Regions from separate parts of the Homo sapiens genome. Here regions 2, 3 and 4 are each reported to be linked to region 1. The links are microRNA targets in miRTarBase. Many come from high-throughput screens and were not tested one by one. Region 1 holds a microRNA gene; each other region holds the end of a gene's coding sequence.
What was found. Region 1 holds the annotated microRNA hsa-miR-3665 (AGCAGGUGCGGGGCGGCG, at 2,236-2,253, shown strand). A microRNA usually pairs through its seed, bases 2 to 8, with sites in the 3' UTR of a target mRNA and lowers its output. Matches are read on the target gene's strand: a 7mer-m8 pairs with bases 2 to 8, a 7mer-A1 pairs with bases 2 to 7 and ends in A, and an 8mer does both.

Region 1 (4,280 bases):
TTTGATTTGCTTCAAACCATCTGAAGAGCTAATATACTAATACCACTAAGTGGGTGATTTCTGTTAAAGTTGATTATTTCAATGCTATTTGGACAAAATTAAACTATAAAAAGAAAGCCTAGGTACCAAAATGCTAGTAATAGGATGCTAACTAAATATGACAGAAATCCATTCAAAAGAAGGAAAGTTATTAATAGATTACTAATCTCATATTTACAAACAATATCACAATAAATTTTAAAATGCAAATATTTTAAGCATAAAACTGATCCCATATATCTCCCCATCAAAAATGTAAACAAGTTTCCTTCCACTGTTTACATACATACCATCAGAAAAGGCTAAGTAGGGACTAAATCAACCTAAAATAATTTGAAAGTGGCATAAGGGCTGAGAGTTATTAGTGAAATCTAAGGACCATCATGAGAGCATTTTCTAGTACCACATTCAGACTGAAACTGAGATTACTTTACAGAAATAAGGGTGCAGCTTTGAAAAAATGGCTTAAAGTTCCCAAAAGTGATGAGTTGTTTGATTTTTTTACACCTTGAGCTACCTGCACAGCTGCCAAAAAGTATTAAGGTGGATGATGAATACACCTCTGAAAGGCTTACTGTAACTCCATATATTTTGATTCTTGAATGAAACCAATTAACTAATGTACTTTACAGTTAGAGCTCTCACATGACAGAGTGTAAGGGAAAAGGAACACTGCAGTTCCCAATAGGAAACCAGTAAGGATCTCCATTTCCCAATCCCTTCCATGCAATCATGCAACAGAGACACAAAGAAAGTAATGAAAACACAGCTTGGAAAAACAGAAAGGGTCCTACATAAAAAGGACCTAAAGTAAAGAAGGACTACAGCAAGCCTCCCCCTAAAGTTACTCATTCATGGAAAGTAGACAGTGCTAACCAGATGTCAACTGAATAAATGCTGTCAGCCTCAAGTTTTCTGATAACCAAGCTAAAAAGTTTCCAAGAAATAAGAAAATAAGGCTTCTCTAATCTCACTTTTCTTCTACAGTTTAATTTAAAAAATTAAAGACAGTTCGTTGGTTCCTAGGTAAAAAAATAAATAAATAAATAAAAAAGTCCCTCCCACCTGTTCATTCCACTCCAAGAAAAGTCCTCTTTATTGGCACTATTTATGGGAAAGCCAGTGAGGTCACCCCATTTTAAAAAGCAAGTCAGTCTCTGAAAATAAGATTTCAATGAAAATGCAACGCAAAAGGGCACACGACTGCAAAATTCAAACAGCAAGAACGAACCTCTCTATAAAGAGAGATCCATCACTGCGCGGCTTCCGATGCCACCCGAGGAGGAAGAGCACGCAAATCCTGTCCAGCGTTCGTTTAAAACGAAAGAACAGTAACAGTCGCAGACAGAGGCCAACCCCTACCATCCCCCGTCATCCCTCCGAAAACACTGGGGAAAAGAGCAGCACTGAGCAAAAAGACAAGATGACATGGATTTTGCACTTAATGCTAACGAGGAGCTTGGGACCCAACAATCAGCAAATAGCAGAACCCATGGCAGATGGGGGGAAGGGGGGGCCGGTTCATCCGCAGTCGGAGCGATTAGAAAACAGGTTTCTGCCTTCATGAGAAGCCTCATCGTGGGAAGTGTCACCGCCTGGCTCAACACCTGCTGGGTCGGCCCCTCCGGGAGCCGCGGGGAGTCACCCCGGCTGCCGCGAGGGGACCCCCGTCCGCCCCCCGCCCCCGCTCCCCGGTGCCCGAAGCCCCCGAGGCCAGGGTCTCGGGGAAGGAGCGGAGCCAGGCAGTACCAGGTGTAGTCGTCCTCGTCCCGCCAGGCGGCTACGCTCTCCAGATCCAGCAATTCCACCTCGTCCAGCAGCGTGGGGGGCGGCGAGGGCGGCGCTGCAGCTGCCCCTGGCGGCGTCCCCGCGCCCCCCGGCTCCGGCCCGCCACCGCCCGCGCCGAAGAAGCCTGCTGCCGGCTTGAAGTAGACGAAGGGCGCCTCGGGTGGCTGCGCCAGGCTGCAAAGCAGGGAGGGCGCGGGGCTAGGCAGGCAGAAGGTGCCCGGGAACGCGGGGCTGGAGCCACCGCCGCTGCCACTACCGCTGCCGCCACCGCCCCCCGCGCCCAGCGCCAGCCCGAGCCCCAGGCCCCCTGAGGCCGCGGCGGTGGCCGTGGCGGCCGGGGGGCTCCGAGGACCCAAAGGCTGCAGGCCAGCGGGGGGCGGCGCGGCGGGCGGCGGCGGCGGCAGCAGCAGCAGGTGCGGGGCGGCGGCCGCGCTGGCCGCTCGACTCCGCAGCTGCTCGTTCTGCTTCTCCAGCTTGCGCACCAGCTCCTGCAGCTTCTTCACCTCCAGCTCCGCGTTCACCACCGGCCCGGAGCCCGCTCCAGAGCTGACCCCTGCCGAGGCGCATTTCACCTGCTCCGCCATCATCGTGGGCCCCGAGGGCGCCGCGGCCGCCGGGGAGTGCGCGCCGCCGCGCCGGCTCCTCGGGCCACGGGGAGGCTACGGCTCCTTCCCTGTCGCCCCGGCCTGGGGGGCCGACCACGCGCGGGCTGAGGCCGAGCCGGCGGTTCGCATCAGCACCGGGCCCTCGCCTCCGGCCGCGGCAGCCACCACCGAGCTGATCTGCACATGCTCAGTGCGTCCCTCCAGTCCCCTGGGCGTCGCGGCGGCTCCGGGTTTTAGCCGCGGCCCCGGAGCGGGGCGGGGCAAGAGCGCCGAGGGGGCGGGTGGGGGGGGGGGGGCGGAGAACCGTGGGGAAGCCCACCCAGGGGGCGGGGCCGGCAGCCCGGGTTGGGGCCGGGGAGCCGCACCCACCCTCGCTACCTAATCCCAGGGGCCTGATTGGACCTGGCCTGAACTTTCCCGCCACAAGCACCTCCTCCTGCCGCTTGGTGGGACAGTGAACTGCGCGGGTCTCTGAGGCGGTTGCGGGGACCAGGGGGTTCCCAAAGAAGCAGCTGCAGGTGCTGGCCCTCGAGTAGTGCACCACCGGCCCGCTGGTTTGCTCCCTTCCCAGCTCTCTGTTAGGCTCCGTGACAGCACTTAATAGCCACTGGCTAACGAATCCTATAGAAAACTTAAAGGCTGGGGATCGTTATTCTAAAAACCGAAAAGTGGAGATAGGGGGAACAGAAAGGCTTTGGGACCATGCCACTCATGTTCTCATTGGTAATAGAGAAGCAAAATGGTGGGAGACAGGAGACCGAGAAGAAAGAGAAGAAAGCCCTCTCTCTAAGAGGTAGAGTGGCCAGCTGCTAAGGAGACAAGTGTTTACTTATTTATTCTAAAATAGTCAAATTTGAACTGTTACCATCATTGTTTGTCACAATAAAAGAAGAACTGCTTTTTTTTTCATACTATGTATATTCATGCATTCCCCAAACAAAAGATCTTTGAGCACCTACTCTGTGCCAGGAACCATTCTAAGAGCTCGTGATGCGGGCAATGAGTACAATAGGCAAAAATGGTTATGGGGAGAAATATGAGTAAAATTGTTTAGTGCTCCTTCTATTAAATAATGTGTAAGTTATTAAAGTCAGACTTGCTGGTGGGAAAGCAGAAAACAGAAAACCTCAGAATTCTACCCAATACACTTTAATCTCACCTGCAAACCTGCTATTTCTTACCACTTGGAAAACGAGCAAATCTGCTTTTTTTAAAAGAGGCTTTTAAGCAGAAGAATTTAATCGAGTTGTGTTCAATGAATACTGACTGACTTAGCATTTTGAGTGTTTAACACAATCAGAGGAAAACCTGAGATTATATTATGAGAAAAATCTACACCACTGGTTCTCATCCTCAGATGATATACTATCTAGTGAAAGTCCTTGCTAGGGACTTTACATACCAATCTTTGTGACAATGTACCTCATTTCTCTGGAGCTGCTAACACATCGTATCTATTGGTTTCAGATATGGTTTTGTGTCTTCCTGCTCAGAAACACTTGTATCTTCTCAGTTGTTAATCTACATCTCTAGCTTCTGTGTGCAGGGTGGATGTTCTGCATTTAACATGCTTGGTGAGCGCTTCCATAAATTAGCTAAATGCGTGTGATGACTCCCTTAACCTTCCCTGTGTCCCAGCTTGCTAGCCCACCACCTAACCACCTGTATCACCCATCACCTTTCCAAGTTTCGGTATATCTTTAGGATTTTTTTTGGTTATTACCAAAACCTGGAGAAATGGAGTAATACTACTGAAAGTCCTAAGTAAAGAATCTATTGAAGGATTTTTCCCGCATGCTCAGTGGCAGATGCGGGTAGCAGTATCTCCCTGCAACACAAAGAAAGGGA
Region 2 (4,280 bases), not on the chromosome of region 1:
ATACTCAGAATAGGGTGGAGGTACCAGATGGAAAAATGTGACAGGTTCCTGAAGATGATATCCCTGTTTTACATTTTGCCCAAAGAGAACACAGAGATTCTTTTTATTTAAAGGGGACGGGGTGAAACATGAACATTTGAGGCTGATTCCCTGTGGGAAAAATCATTCAAATCTATTCACTCATCTGATGGCTGTTGCTTGTTTTATTTTTTGTCCAAGAGAGGTGGTGTTGGACCGAGGTAGAGAAGACAGTGGTACACCAGAAATAACCCAAAGGATTGCCCCTTCTGTAGAAGGCCCTTAGACTCCATGATGCCTTTCAGCTGGGTGCTATACTTGCACCTAACTCTGGGGGCTTCACTTTCTATCCCTACAATTACTCAAACAGATAAAAGGCTGGATGTTAACATGTAGTTATAAGGGGCGTGATCTAATAGTAAGGAATATCACTTCCCACAAGTCCTTCAAACAAGATTTGTGAGGAGCTGGATTTGTCAGCATGTCAGATCTTTTTGAAAACCAGAGAGTAGAATGTAAGCAATACCCTTGTCGTAATTAAAGACCAGACTCCATCCTTATACCACTGATGCCTCTGGTACCTTAATCCTTAAAATATTTAGTGACCCTTGCCTTCTAATTCTTGACACAAATATATAATGACCATTTTAGATCGGGGAACTCCCTTTCTTTGAAGGCAGTTTAGGGATTCCACAGATGGGCTTTGAACCTGCTAAATGTGTATGGAAAACTGAGTGAATTACAAATGTCTTTTTCTCAAAAGTGCGTTTCTGGTTTCTGTCAGATTCAACAGGTCTGTACCCAAGACAGGTTCTGAACCATTGCTTATGCAGAGCTTTTAGTATTAAAGAGGGAGAGTAAAAGAAATGTCAGAGTCCAGATTTATCACTGAACCCAATACTTTCTTACTCCCTGGGGCATCTCCTAATACTGATCCTAAAATGCTCCTGTTTCTGAGAAGCTAGGGCAAGACCTGCCTTACAAAGACCAGCCATTTTGCCTTATTCATAGGATCATAAGCAAGAGAACTGCATTCCAGGAAGAATGAAGGAAGAAGGAAGGCTGCTCACAGTAGCAGAAGGGAGGCAGGGGCCAAGCTGTTCAAGTCACATAAACTCTAAGAAGCCCAGTCAGCAAAATAAGTCTATCTTCAATTCTAGTTGAGTCCAGGACTCTGAGGAGCTGTGATTCACCCAGTTTTTCCTGCAAAAGGCACAGTCGCTAAACTAAATTGGTGCAATTCACTTCCTCTTGCCTCTCTGGTTCATTCCACCAATTGTGGTTGAGAAACACATCTTAGGGAAGAAACAGTATCTAAGCATTAAAGAGAAAATATCCCACTTTGCTCCTCTTCCTCCCTAACCCCGAACTGCTCTTACATACAAGATAATTTTTAAATTATAAGATTGGTATTAACACAATTATTGATAAAGAGAAACAATGACCAACTCATTAGCTAACGATGCTAGAATACTTATGCAAGCCCTAGAGTTAAGGGTCTTAGTGTGGACACCTTTCCAGAATTGGAAGGAAAACCAACCAGAAAGCTTATTACCCTGCAGCAGCTGAAAAGCTAAGCCACAGCCATTTTCCCTAAAGTTCTGTTTCTGGGAGAATGAGATCTTCAAGAATAACTCTTGCCCCTTGATGAGGCAGTCAAATTCAAACCAGTGATGGCAACAACTTGCAAACACGTAATTCCTGCCCTAATTTTCCAGCACTTAAAACAAAATCCCCACTCAATACAAAGTTTCTATGTGCCTCTTGCCTGAAATCAACAAGAAACAGCTCACCTCCCCAAAGACTCCTCTTTCTCTGCCAGGGCAAAAGCAATCTGCAGCCCAGAGATTCAAACCTAGACATACACATCCACAATTGTCTTAATCTCAGCAGTACTGGGAAAGCTTTGTACTCAACTTAACCTGTCATTTAACCCTTTCCACTAGTTCTCCCTTAACCAGACTGCTTCCTGTCTTGAAACAAAGAAAAAACCCCATATAATCCCCACTACCCTCATCCCCAGAACACAGCCCCTAGAAAACCTAGCTTGTACAGTTTGCACATAGCATGCTGTCTTCAAAGACCCTGCACACAAATACACAGACACATAAAGACAGTCAAGAGGAGAGAGGGGACTGTTCAAGGGGATAAAGTTTTTTTTGTTTTTCTGTTTTTCTGTGTGGGCCAGGGCTATTTGGGGGTATTAGATCATCTCTTAGCCTTGTAGTGTGATCTCTCAGCTGGATATATGTATGTGCAGGATGAAGGGAGTAGGAATAATGGGTAAAAAGGTTATTTTTTCAGCAGGTGAGGGTGAGAGGTGATGTATATACTGCTGATTGGCATAAGGAAGACAGACCCACACATGAACAAGGTCTGGCCCCCCTGGCTTTCATATGGATAAAAAAGGGGGCTCTGGATGCCTGATCACTATCTCTTGTTTCCTTGTTACTCTCTAACCCAGTGTTCACCAGAGTGTTTCATAGTCACCAGTTCTGTGGGATGTAAATAGAAAGGATACTGAGGTCAAATACATTTAGGAAACACTGCCTTAATAGAACCTTCAGTTGGGTCTACTGCAGAAATTTTCAGAGCCTTTAATATTCTAAAATGGCCTTTCTGTCTATATATAGAGAAAATATAATAGTAACAGTATGCAAGAGTGATACTCAAAATGTTTAACAACTGGTATAGCATAGACTCCAACCAATCAGAATGGATTTCAGCCATAAACTGCCAGTACCACTCTCCTCTTGAGAACAGCTCAGGCTGAATATCAGCCCATGTAGGATGCATTGCTTCCCAAAAGTTTTGCCCAAAGAACTCTATTTTTATGTGCTATCTCACAGAACTGGTGAGAAATGCTCTGGCCATTGCTGGGACCTCATCTTTCTAGGGATGGGGTCAGGGCTTATGATTCTGGCCACTGGGGTTCAGGAGAACGGCAGCCCTGGCAGTGACTCCTGGTAGCACCGGCTGATAGACTTGACCATAGCTGTAGTGGAAACAGATTTCAAAAGACAGATGTTCCTCTGTCCCAGCTGTTCCGGGGACTTTGTCCCTGGTGGGTGAGCAGGTGCCTGTCCAGGTGATGTTTTCGGCCAAAGCTCTTCTCACAGCGAGGGCACTGGAAGGGCTTCTCCCCAGTGTGGGTCAGCCAGTGTCTCACAAGGTGGTGCCTTCGGCCAAAGCTCTTCCCACATTCAGTGCACACGTGACACTTTGGCACTGGTGGGGCACGCTGCCGTTTCCTTGTGCCAGGGCTCTCTCCAACCTCTTGGCCTTTGCAGGATTTGCCTTCTGCATGCACTCTCTGGTGGCTGGCCAGATGGGAGTTGCATCGGAAATTCTTACCACACTCAGAGCACCTGCTGGTCTTGTCATGTAGGTGGGTTTTCTGGTGCCTGATGAGGTGATGTCTTCGCCCAAAGGTCTTCTCACACTTGAGGCAGCTGTAGGGTCTCTCCCCAGTGTGTGTTTGTTGATGCCTGGCAAGGTGGGAACCCCATACAAACTGTTTCCCACACTGGGGGCATGTGTGGGGTCTTAACAGGGAATCCATCTCTGTGCTACACAGCAGGTTTGAGAAACTATCTTCCTGAAGAAAAGGGGGCCCCAGGAGCATTCCTCTGGAGCTGCTGGGCATGGAATCCCAGCTCTCATCATGCTCCGGGTTCCAGAGAACAGTATCTTCAGACACGCTGGATAACATTCTGGGAGGTTCTGCTTCTAGTTCAGGGGTATCCCCCTCATGTTCACTTCCATCTCCTGCGGAGAAGGGGAAATACCAACCCCAAGAGAAGAGTCACAAGAGAGTGCTTGAGGCCTAAGTCACAAATGAGGTTGTCTGATACCTGCCAGGGCCCAGACTTGACCCCAGAAGGGCTGAGAGAACATAGTCTAATGTCGTACAAGACAGTGCAATAGATATAGAGGTTAAAAGCCTAGGCTTAGGAGGCAGATTACCTAAGATGGAATCTCAGCTTTCCCACTTAACTTCCCTAAACCTTCATTTCTTCTGTAAAATTGGAATAATACCTCTCTCTCCGGCAGTTATAAGATAGATAGCACAGAACCTGCACATAGTTTAAGTACTTAGTAAATTGTATATGTTATTGTTATTATTTATTACCATTATTTATTTACTACTGTATATTACTATTAATCAGCATCTTTCTATCTAAGCATAGATGGAGAGAATTACAGAATGTGCCGCAATTGTCACTGGCTGAATGACACCTGTCGGCAGTCCTCAAGGCATT
Region 3 (4,280 bases), not on the chromosome of region 1:
GGTCAGGAGTTCGAGACCAGCCTGGCCAACATGGTGAAACCCTGTCTCTACTAAAAATACAAAATTAGCTGGGCGTGGTGGCACACGCCTGTAATCCCAGCTACTTGGGAGGCTGAGGCAGGAGAATCACTTGAACCTGGGAGGCGGTGGTTGCAATGAGCTGAGATCGCGCCACTGCACTCCAGCCTGGGTGACAGAGCGAGACTGTGTCTCAAAAAAGAAAGCGGCGGGGGGCCGGGGGCTATCTCGAGGGATACAGGATAGGCCTGGCCCATCTGCTGGTGGCCACAGACACCAGCCCCTCTGTGTCCCCAGCACTCGGGGAGCAGAGCGGGCGGGGGTCCTGACAGGCTGTGTGTGCCCCGCAGCACGCCCTGCGAATGCTGGCCTTCCGGCAGACCCACAAGGTCCTGGGCATGGATCTCCTGCCGCCCAGACACCGGCTGGGGGCCCGCTTCCGGAAGAGGCAACGGGGACCTGGCGAGGGAGAGGAGGGCGCAGGGGAGAAGAAGCGGGGCCGGCGGGGCGGAGAGGGGCTCGTGTGAGCCGCCTACCTCCCCCACCTGCGGGCCTTTGCATCCCTGCACTCCTGGACGTGTGCGCGCCGACCAATGGCTGCTTCATCCCCGACGTTGGACAATGGTCATTTCCTTTTGAGTAACGCTCTGTAGGTTTCCTTTAAAACACCTGTGCTTCAGACCGGGCACTGTGGCTCATGCCTTTAATCCCAGCACTTTGGGAGGCTGAGTTGCTTGAGCCTGAGAGTTCAAGGCCAGCCCAGACAACAGAGTGAGACCCCCATCTCTCCAAAATATTTTTAAAAATCAGCTTGGCATGGTTGGTGGCCAGGCGCGGTGATTCACGCCTGTAATCCCAGCACTTTGAGAGGCCGAGGTGGGCAGATCGCCTGAGGTCAGGAGTTCGAGACCGGCCTGGTCAACATGGTGAAACCCTGTCTCTAGTAAAAAACACAACAATTAGCCTGGCGTGGTGGTGTGCACCTGTAGTCCCAGCTACTTGGGAGGCTGAGTCCGGAGCCTTGAGGCCAGGAGGGCAGTGAGCTGTGATTGCACCGTGACACTCCAGCCTGGGCAACAGAAGAAGACTTTGTCACTTAAAAGAAATGTTTTTTAACATTTGTGCTTAAATTGTTACAGAAATGACACCATCCAGCCCTGGGAGTGGCACCCCTTCCTCGAGGGCCCCATCCCCCACAGCCAGGGGGGCCAGCAGTACAGCAAGCAGATTCTAAACTCGGGGGCATCTTGCTGGCTCTAAACTCACCTCGTGGTACAGGAAGGGGTTTTAAAATACTTCCTCTGGGCTGCGCATGGTGGCTCACACCTATAATCCCAGCACTTTGGGAGGCCAAGCTTGGTGGATCGCTTGAGCCCAGCGGTTTAAGATCAGTCTGGGCAATATGGTGACACCCCATCTCTACAAAAAATTAGCCAGTTGTGGTGGCCCAAGCCTGTAGTCCCAGCTACTCGGGAGGCTGAGGCCGTAGGATCCCTTGAGCCCAGGAGTTCGAGGCTGCAGCGAGCCGAGATTGCGCTACTGAACTCCAGCCTGGGTTACAGAGCGAGACCCTGTCTCAAAGAAACAAACAAACAAACAAACAAACAAACAAAACTTTCTTTGGATGCGGCTGCGGCATGGATTTGAAATCACGTGGGCAGGCCCTGTTCTGGGGCCCCACCACATGTGCAGGACAAGCCCAGGGGAGCTCCCAGCCGGCATCCCCACGCCCCCAGCCCAGCCTGCTCCAAACAGACCCCCCACCCACCTCCACAGCCAGGATGTCAGCAGGGCCTGAGCCAGGCTCGTCCCCTGTGGGGAGAGCCACAGGGCCAGGTGGACACGCCGACGGGCGATGAGGATCCTGGCTGGGCCTCCCCCGGGAACAGCTGTGCTGGACAGTCAGACCCGGAGCCCAGAGGCACCCCCACCCACCCCCCGCCCCGAGCCCTGTACCACTGAGTGCCTTTCACAGAGAAAACCCACTCTGCCATGTGTCACTGAGGCCTGGATTTGAGCTTCCGTCCTTCCTTCCTCCCTCTCTCCCTGATGTAGGCCTTGGCTGGCCCTGAGGCAGGGGGTCCCCAATCCCCCCTTGTGGTAGCAGGGCCCGGGACCCGTGCCTGGGGGACCCGGGGAGGGGCCGCCGTCTTGTGGATGCTGGCCATGGTGGGCAGGCGCCTCCTGGCACTGATGGATGTGGGGGCACCCCCTTCTGAGTCCCCACCCCAACCTGTTCAAACCTTCCGCTTGGTCAGTTTTTTTTTCTTTGGCCAGCTGCCCAGTGGCATTGAATGAGAAAAGTCCACCTTTGGGCAGATGTGATCTCCAGCCAGTGGCTCAGTTTTGTTTCTCTGTGTTTGAAGGACAGCCTGCATGTGGCTCTGTCTGAATGTCTTTGTAGAGCTACCTGGAAATTGGGAGGCAGGGGGAATAAAGGAAATCATTTGTCTTTTGTGTGAGCCGTGCCGTCCTTCCTGCGGGGTGCAGGTGACCCCAAATGCTGGGCTCTTCACCTCCTTCTCAGGGTCCCGGGTGGGGGTCTCCCAGAAACCCTGCAGCCCAAATGTGGACTGGGAGGGGCCCAAGGGGCTGGCACTGCTCAGTGGCTGCTCCCCAAGGTGTGGGCATCCTCAGGCTGTCCCCTCACAAGGGTCCCCTGGGAACACAGACACACCGGCTGAGAATCATTCATCTCAACGCCTCCCATAACCCAGCTCTCTGCCTCGGTCCTTGAGGGTTCCCCTGGCCCCATCCTAGAGACACACAGTGAGATGCTCTGGAGGCTCCCCGAGGGCTTCCTGGAGGAGGAGGCAACTACGCTGAGTTTGGGAGAGATGCCTCTGCCCACAGAGTGCTTCCCCCGCCACATTCCCAAACCCTCAGAAGGCGGGCGGAGGGTGTTCAGATGCTGAGACCTGGTCACAGTGGAAGAGTTTCGTGACAGTTTCCAGCCCACAGGGCTTCCCTGGCAGTGTTTGGGACGGGGGGCAGGCGGGGAGCAGAGTGGGGAGGAGGCAGATGCAGGGTGGGGGAGGAGGCAGATGCAGGGTGGGGGCGGCGGGACGGGAGTGGCAGGGGCTGGGTGTGCAGGGACCGCTGTTTCAGGCCCAGGCCAAAGGAGGGGGGTGGGGAGCCACCGAGGGGTCCCCTTCTAGCAGGGATTATCTGTCAGCAACAGGAATTGCTGGTTAAGCCTCCCCGGAGGGCAGGCGGCCTCTAGGCCACCGTCCTCCTCCACCTCACACCCTCTCTCCTGCTTTCCACTCTATCCCAGATTTCTTGGGAACTTCACTCCCTTGCTACACACTCCGTCCACACACAGCCCCTCTCTCCGTCAGCATCGCGGCAGCAGCACCGCCATTTGCCCAGGGCTCAAGGTGACAGCCAGCACAACCAGGGAGGCCTCCTGGATTCCTCTGTGCTCCCGGCCAATCCATGAGGATGTCTTGTCAATTCCAGTTCCACCTTTTTTTTTTTTTTTTTTTTTTGAGACAGGGTCTCTGTCTCCCAGGCTGGAGTGCAGCAGCTCGATCTCAGCTCACTGCAACCTCGCCTCCTGAGTTCCAGTGATTATTCCACCTCAGCCACCCGAGTAGCTGGGACTACAGGCCTACATCACCACGCCCAGCTAATTTTTTGTATTTTTAGTAGAGACGGGGTTTCACCATGTTGGCCAGGCTGGTCTCAAACTCCTGACCTCAGGTGATCCGCCCACCTCAGCCTCCCAAAGTGCTGGGATTATAGGCGTGAGCCACCGCGCCTGGCCTATTCCTTGACTTTAAACCATGCATCTTTGAAACGATTTGGTATCTGTCTTCCCCTTGAGAATGTGAACTCTCTGCCTGTCAGGAAGCCTCTCACCATCAATTGGATCACCACTGTATTCCCAGATCTCGGGCAGGCCAGGTGGACGCTAGCAACTGAGTCGGTCTCAGTGCTCAGAGCCACGCTCTGACACCAGAGGACGTGTCTCTTTCTGGTGGTTATGAGAATACCATTTGTCGGCCGGGTGCAGTGGCATGTGCCTGTAATCCCAGCACTTTGGGAGGCCAAGGCGAGCGGATCACTTGAGGTCAGGAGTTCGAGACCAGCCTGGCCCACGTGGTGAAACCCTGTCTCTACTAAAAATACCAAAAATTAGTTGGGTGTGGTGGCGGGCACCTGTAATCCCAGCTACTTGGAAGGCTGAGGCAGGAGAATCGCTTGAACCCGGGAGGCAGAAGTTGTGGTGAACTGAGATCACGCCATTGCACTCCAGC
Region 4 (4,280 bases), not on the chromosome of region 1:
TGGGCCTCACTGAGCTGTATCCGTCTCTTTCAGAGCCAGCGGTGAGCCTGGAGCAGTGTGAGCAGCTGGTGGCAGAGCTCCGCGGCAGCGTGCGCCAGGCAGTGCGGCTCTACCACTCGGTGGGTGTTAGGTGCCCCCCGGCAGGAAGGCGGGCACGTCAGTAGTGCTGGGTGTTTCGGATAACCATGTCCAGAACAGTATGCTAAGCCTCTTGTGCTGACAGGATGGCACACTCAAGAACATCTTGGGCAGCATAGGTGAGGGGGTTAGAGGCCAGGCTAGCCTCTTGTACCGGGCACCTGCGGTCATTTCTGGTTAAGAGCTGGAGACTTCCCTCAGGAGGTGAGGCCTGAAGAGACCACACCTCCTAGTTGGCTCAGGACAATCCCAGTTTATGTCGTTGTCCCAGTGTAATTATTAATGGCATCCTTTTTCATATCCATGAATTATTTGGCCCCCTTAGACATAGGGGACAGTCCAAGAAGGCCCAAACTTTGAAAGAGAAAGCAGATTCTGCCGGAGTTGTCATAAGGAGTTGCTTATAAGATGTAGACGGTTCTGCAATCCAATGGGTTCCTCCTTGGGCGTCACCCCCAGAGTCTGCCTGCATCCCATGTTCCCTGGCCATACATGCTGATCTTGGCGGGTAGAGTTCCCAGCTAGTCCCTTCTGAGGCAGGCTGGACCCAGGTGGGGCCCCTCCCTTTTATATGTCTGTTGACAGGCTCCTCCACCTCACTTCTGGGGGTGCTATTTCAGGTGGCTGGCTGCAAGATGCCCTCAGCAGAGCAAAGTCGGATTGCCCAGCTCCTCAGAGACACCTTCTCTTCAGTGCGACAGGAGCTGGAAGCTGTGGCTGGGGCAGTGCTGTCCAGCCCAGGCAGCAGCCCTGGGGCTGTGGGAGCCGAGCAGACACAGGCCCTGCTGGAGCAATACTCAGAACTGTTGCTTCGAGCCGTGGAACGGCGTATGGAACGCAAACTCTGAGTTCTGGAAGCCTGTCCCAAGTGAATGAATGCTCCAGCGATTCCAAACTGCAGCCCCTCTGCCCCTCACCAAAACCTGCGGGGCTGCTTGGAGTGGAAAGCAGGGAGCAGTGTTCAGAGGCAAAGCAGCCTTCCCAGCCGCTCCTCGTGGGGGGCCTGTATTTATTAATTTATTTCCCTGACTGTTGCCTCACTTCCTTGGAACTCCTGCCTCCACAGCCCCTCCAGTGGCAGGGACAGGTCTTGGGTCTTTGTCATCTTGGTGCTGTGAGAGGTAGGAGGGCAGCCTGCCCCATCTAGGAATCTGGGAAGGGCTGGCCCTCTCTTAGAAGCCATTTGAAATTACTGCAGGGATTAGCTCCCTGTGGTGGAGCATACACAGGGTACTCTGGGGTCGAGGTGAGAGGTGATGTGGTATTCAGTGCCCGTCAGCCAACTGTGGGCCTTCACCTCTACCTGCACTTCCCCTCTCACACCAGCTGCACTCCCGTGGCTGCCAGAGCAGGGTGGTTTTCCCCAATACCTGGAGCTCAGAAAGGCAGAGCCATCTGGCCCTCCAGGGTGTCCCCAGCCATCAGGAGACTTGAGTTGGTATTTGGACCTGAGCCCGCACATTCCACTCCCATTCTCCCTCCAAGAGGGGCCCAGCATTGTATTTCCCTGTGACCCCTTACTCTCCTGGCCAGAACTTGAGCCAGCTGTGGGATGTTGCTGCAGGACAGTAAGCCCTCACCTGGGCAAACATGAAGCTCTGGCCTCCTTTCCTCAGCCCCTTGTTCTTCCCTGTCCTCCACCCTGGACCCCAGCCGGCTGCTGGAGCCCAGAGGCCACCTTCTCCCTGCATCCTGAATGATGCTTAGTCAGAAGCCTGTGTTGGAACATCCCTCGTTTACGGGGCGCTGGCCTACCTCCTGAGGACCTCAGCCACAGATGAGATCACACGCATGCACGTGCACACATGTACACACACACACCTACCTGCACAGCACGCTGTTGAGTGTTGGTTGCTAGAGTATCTGGCTGGCTGCTGTGTGCCTGGTTTCCTCACATCCTGCCTCAGCTTCACCACCCTGGCTTATGTGGAACACCTATCAGGGAGCAGAAAAGGGGTGCAGTACACTAAGTGAACCCAGATTCTGGATTCTTGGTGTCCACAGCCTAGCTGATACGAGATAGCCCATAGGACACCTGGTTTAGGTAGAAGGAGCCTCCTCAAAGGCAGTGCTGGGCACCCACGGGTGTGCTGGATACTGGAGTTTGAGAGGAGGGAGGTGCTGGGGCCAAAGGAGACACTAGAAAAGTGGTAGATGGGACAGGTAAGTGGCAGAGGTGAGGGGATAAGTTAGAATGTAAAAGGGCAGTAATTAGGGGTGAGGGAAAGGAGATAGGGGACCCTAGGAGGTAGAGTGGGACCATGTCGTGAGGCAGTTGAAGAGTTGAGGAAAGGTTTTTCTGGGCCCTACTGCTCCCCTCTGCTGCAGGTAAGTCAGAGCAGCTTTACCACAGCTTCAGGCCACGAGAGCCCCTTCACCCGCCCTGCTGCGCCATAGGCAGAGGCTTATAAAGAAATGGGTTCTGGGCCAGGTGTGGTGGCTCAAGCCTGTAATCCCAGCACTTTGGGAGGCCGAGGCGGGTGGATCACCTGAGGTTAGGAGTTCGAGATCAGCCTGGCCAACATGGTGAAACCCTGTCTACTAAAAATAAAAAAATTAGCTGGGCGTGGTGGTGGGCGCCTGTAATCCCAGCTACTCGGGAGGTTTAGGCAGGAGAATCGCTTGAACCCTGGAGGTGGAGGTGGAGGTTGCAGTGAGCCGAGATCGCGCCATTGCACTCCAACCTAGGTGACAAAGCTACACGCCATCTCAAAAAAAAAAAAGAAAAAGGGTTACAAAAGGTTCCCAGCTCCGGGGCATCAGCCTGAGTGCGCTTGAGCTGCTCCAAACCTGGCCCTTCCCCACTCCTCTAGCATCGCCACCCGCATGGCCCTGGAACTCCCGCGGCGGCGGGGGCGGGCCCGTGCCTGCTGTGCCCCGACTTCCCACACCAGCCGCGCCCACCGCAGGTGGGACTCAGGTTCGCCCTCTGGGCCAGGTCCTTCACGAGGAGGGAGCTACCCTTCGCCAGAAGTTTGTGAGAATGTGGCCGCCCTTTTCCTGCCCTCTGCCCCATGTGGGTGGGGGGCCTCGTGGCCCGGCCGGCGCCCCGTCCCCTTCTGCATGTCTGAGGCCACCGGCAACCGCCGCCCCACTCCAGATTTGCCCCCGCCTTGTTTTGAAAGCCCCTTATTTATAACTTTTATACTTTGTGCAGGTCGCGGCGCTTCCTGCCTCATCCTCGGCTGCATGGGGCGGGGGCGCTGTTTTTAACGTGCCCGTTTGTACTGATGTATGAACTTGTCAATAAACACAATTGTTTGTTAACCCTGGGATGCCGGCCAGTGGGGCAGGCCGAAGCGGGCGCTGCCAGTCGCTCCACCGCTTCGGTGGCAGAACCCGGTGTGTGTCCAGGGGCAGGACGGGGCGGGGTGCTGGGGGTGTGGCCTGCGGCGGGTGCCTCTGGAAGGGCGGGGCGAGGGTCTGGGGGTGTGGCCTGCGGCGGGGACTCTGGGGAGGGCGGGGCGAGTGCTTGGGGTGTGGCCTGCGGCGGGGCGTCGGGGAAAGGCGGGGTCTCGGCCGGCGCTGACGCAGCCATGGCGGAGGCGGCTTTGGAAGCCGTGCGGAGCGAGTTACGAGAATTCCCGGCCGCTGCAAGGGGTGAGTGGCTCTCCCACAGGCTGCGGCGATTTCCGAACACGGGAGGGGCCCTGGGATGCCGCTGACACCGGGGGCTCGGAACCTCGTGTGTGCGACTGCCCTGAGGCCCCGCTCGGGTTGCTCTTCTGTGGCAACCTGCTTCCCTTCTCCCGTGTTCGCGCGCTCCCGCGGCTTCCTGGGTGATTCTGTTCACGTTGTTCCCAAGGCCCGGTGCCGTCTTGACCGTGGTCGCGGCGAAGCCCTGTGTTTCCTACAGTCTTGAGCAGCTTGCTGTTACCCTTGTTGAAAGCTCATCGAAGGCACACAGCTGGTGGTCGGATTCCTCCCCCACGCGCCCCACCTCCGACCTCAACTCCCTTGTCGCACTTTGGGAGGATTGCAGGCTGACCAAATGGTCCCTGGCTCTTCCCCTGCTTGGTTTTTATTCCTTTTCTTTCTTTCTCTCTTCCCTCCTTCCTTCTTTTTTCTATTTTTAAATGATTTCTTACCACTGAACAGCAACACAGGCTCATGTGTATGTGATGGGTATGTAATATACAGTG

Region 2: miRTarBase lists ZNF641 as a target of hsa-miR-3665. Seed matches in the 3' UTR shown: 7mer-m8 at 2,322-2,328.
Region 3: miRTarBase lists ZFR2 as a target of hsa-miR-3665. Seed matches in the 3' UTR shown: 7mer-m8 at 561-567.
Region 4: the mRNA of MAPKBP1 is a reported target of hsa-miR-3665. Seed matches in the 3' UTR shown: 7mer-A1 at 1,440-1,446 and 7mer-A1 at 1,962-1,968.

What each region holds. Positions count from the first base shown.
Region 1 is chr13:77,696,048-77,700,327 of GRCh38, reverse strand. It overlaps MIR3665 (microRNA 3665), which reads left to right and starts at 2,212; the gene lies at 2,212-2,316. It overlaps SLAIN1 (SLAIN motif family member 1), which reads right to left and starts at 2,641. Exons shown (of 7, transcript NM_001242868.2): 1 at 1,789-2,641. The coding sequence starts at 2,414. RefSeq lists silencers at 1,574-1,723, 1,884-2,123, 2,324-2,883.
Region 2 is chr12:48,339,942-48,344,221 of GRCh38, forward strand. It overlaps ZNF641 (zinc finger protein 641), which reads right to left. Exons shown (of 6, transcript NM_001172681.2): 6 at 1-3,786. The coding sequence ends at 3,032. Among named protein-coding and RNA genes, the nearest start is that of ZNF641, 8.8 kb to the right of the region's middle.
Region 3 is chr19:3,802,214-3,806,493 of GRCh38, reverse strand. ZFR2 (zinc finger RNA binding protein 2) reads left to right here. Exons shown (of 19, transcript NM_015174.2): 19 at 369-2,470. The coding sequence ends at 545. Among named protein-coding and RNA genes, the nearest start is that of MATK, 18 kb to the right of the region's middle.
Region 4 is chr15:41,824,451-41,828,730 of GRCh38, forward strand. It overlaps MAPKBP1 (mitogen-activated protein kinase binding protein 1), which reads left to right. Exons shown (of 31, transcript NM_014994.3): 30 at 34-119; 31 at 759-3,405. The coding sequence ends at 986. It overlaps JMJD7-PLA2G4B (JMJD7-PLA2G4B readthrough), which reads left to right and starts at 3,642. Exons shown (of 25, transcript NM_005090.4): 1 at 3,642-3,738. The coding sequence starts at 3,675. JMJD7 (jumonji domain containing 7) reads left to right here and starts at 3,642. Exons shown (of 8, transcript NM_001114632.2): 1 at 3,642-3,738. The coding sequence starts at 3,675. RefSeq lists enhancers at 1,312-2,194, 3,240-3,469, 3,501-3,795 and a silencer at 3,530-3,619.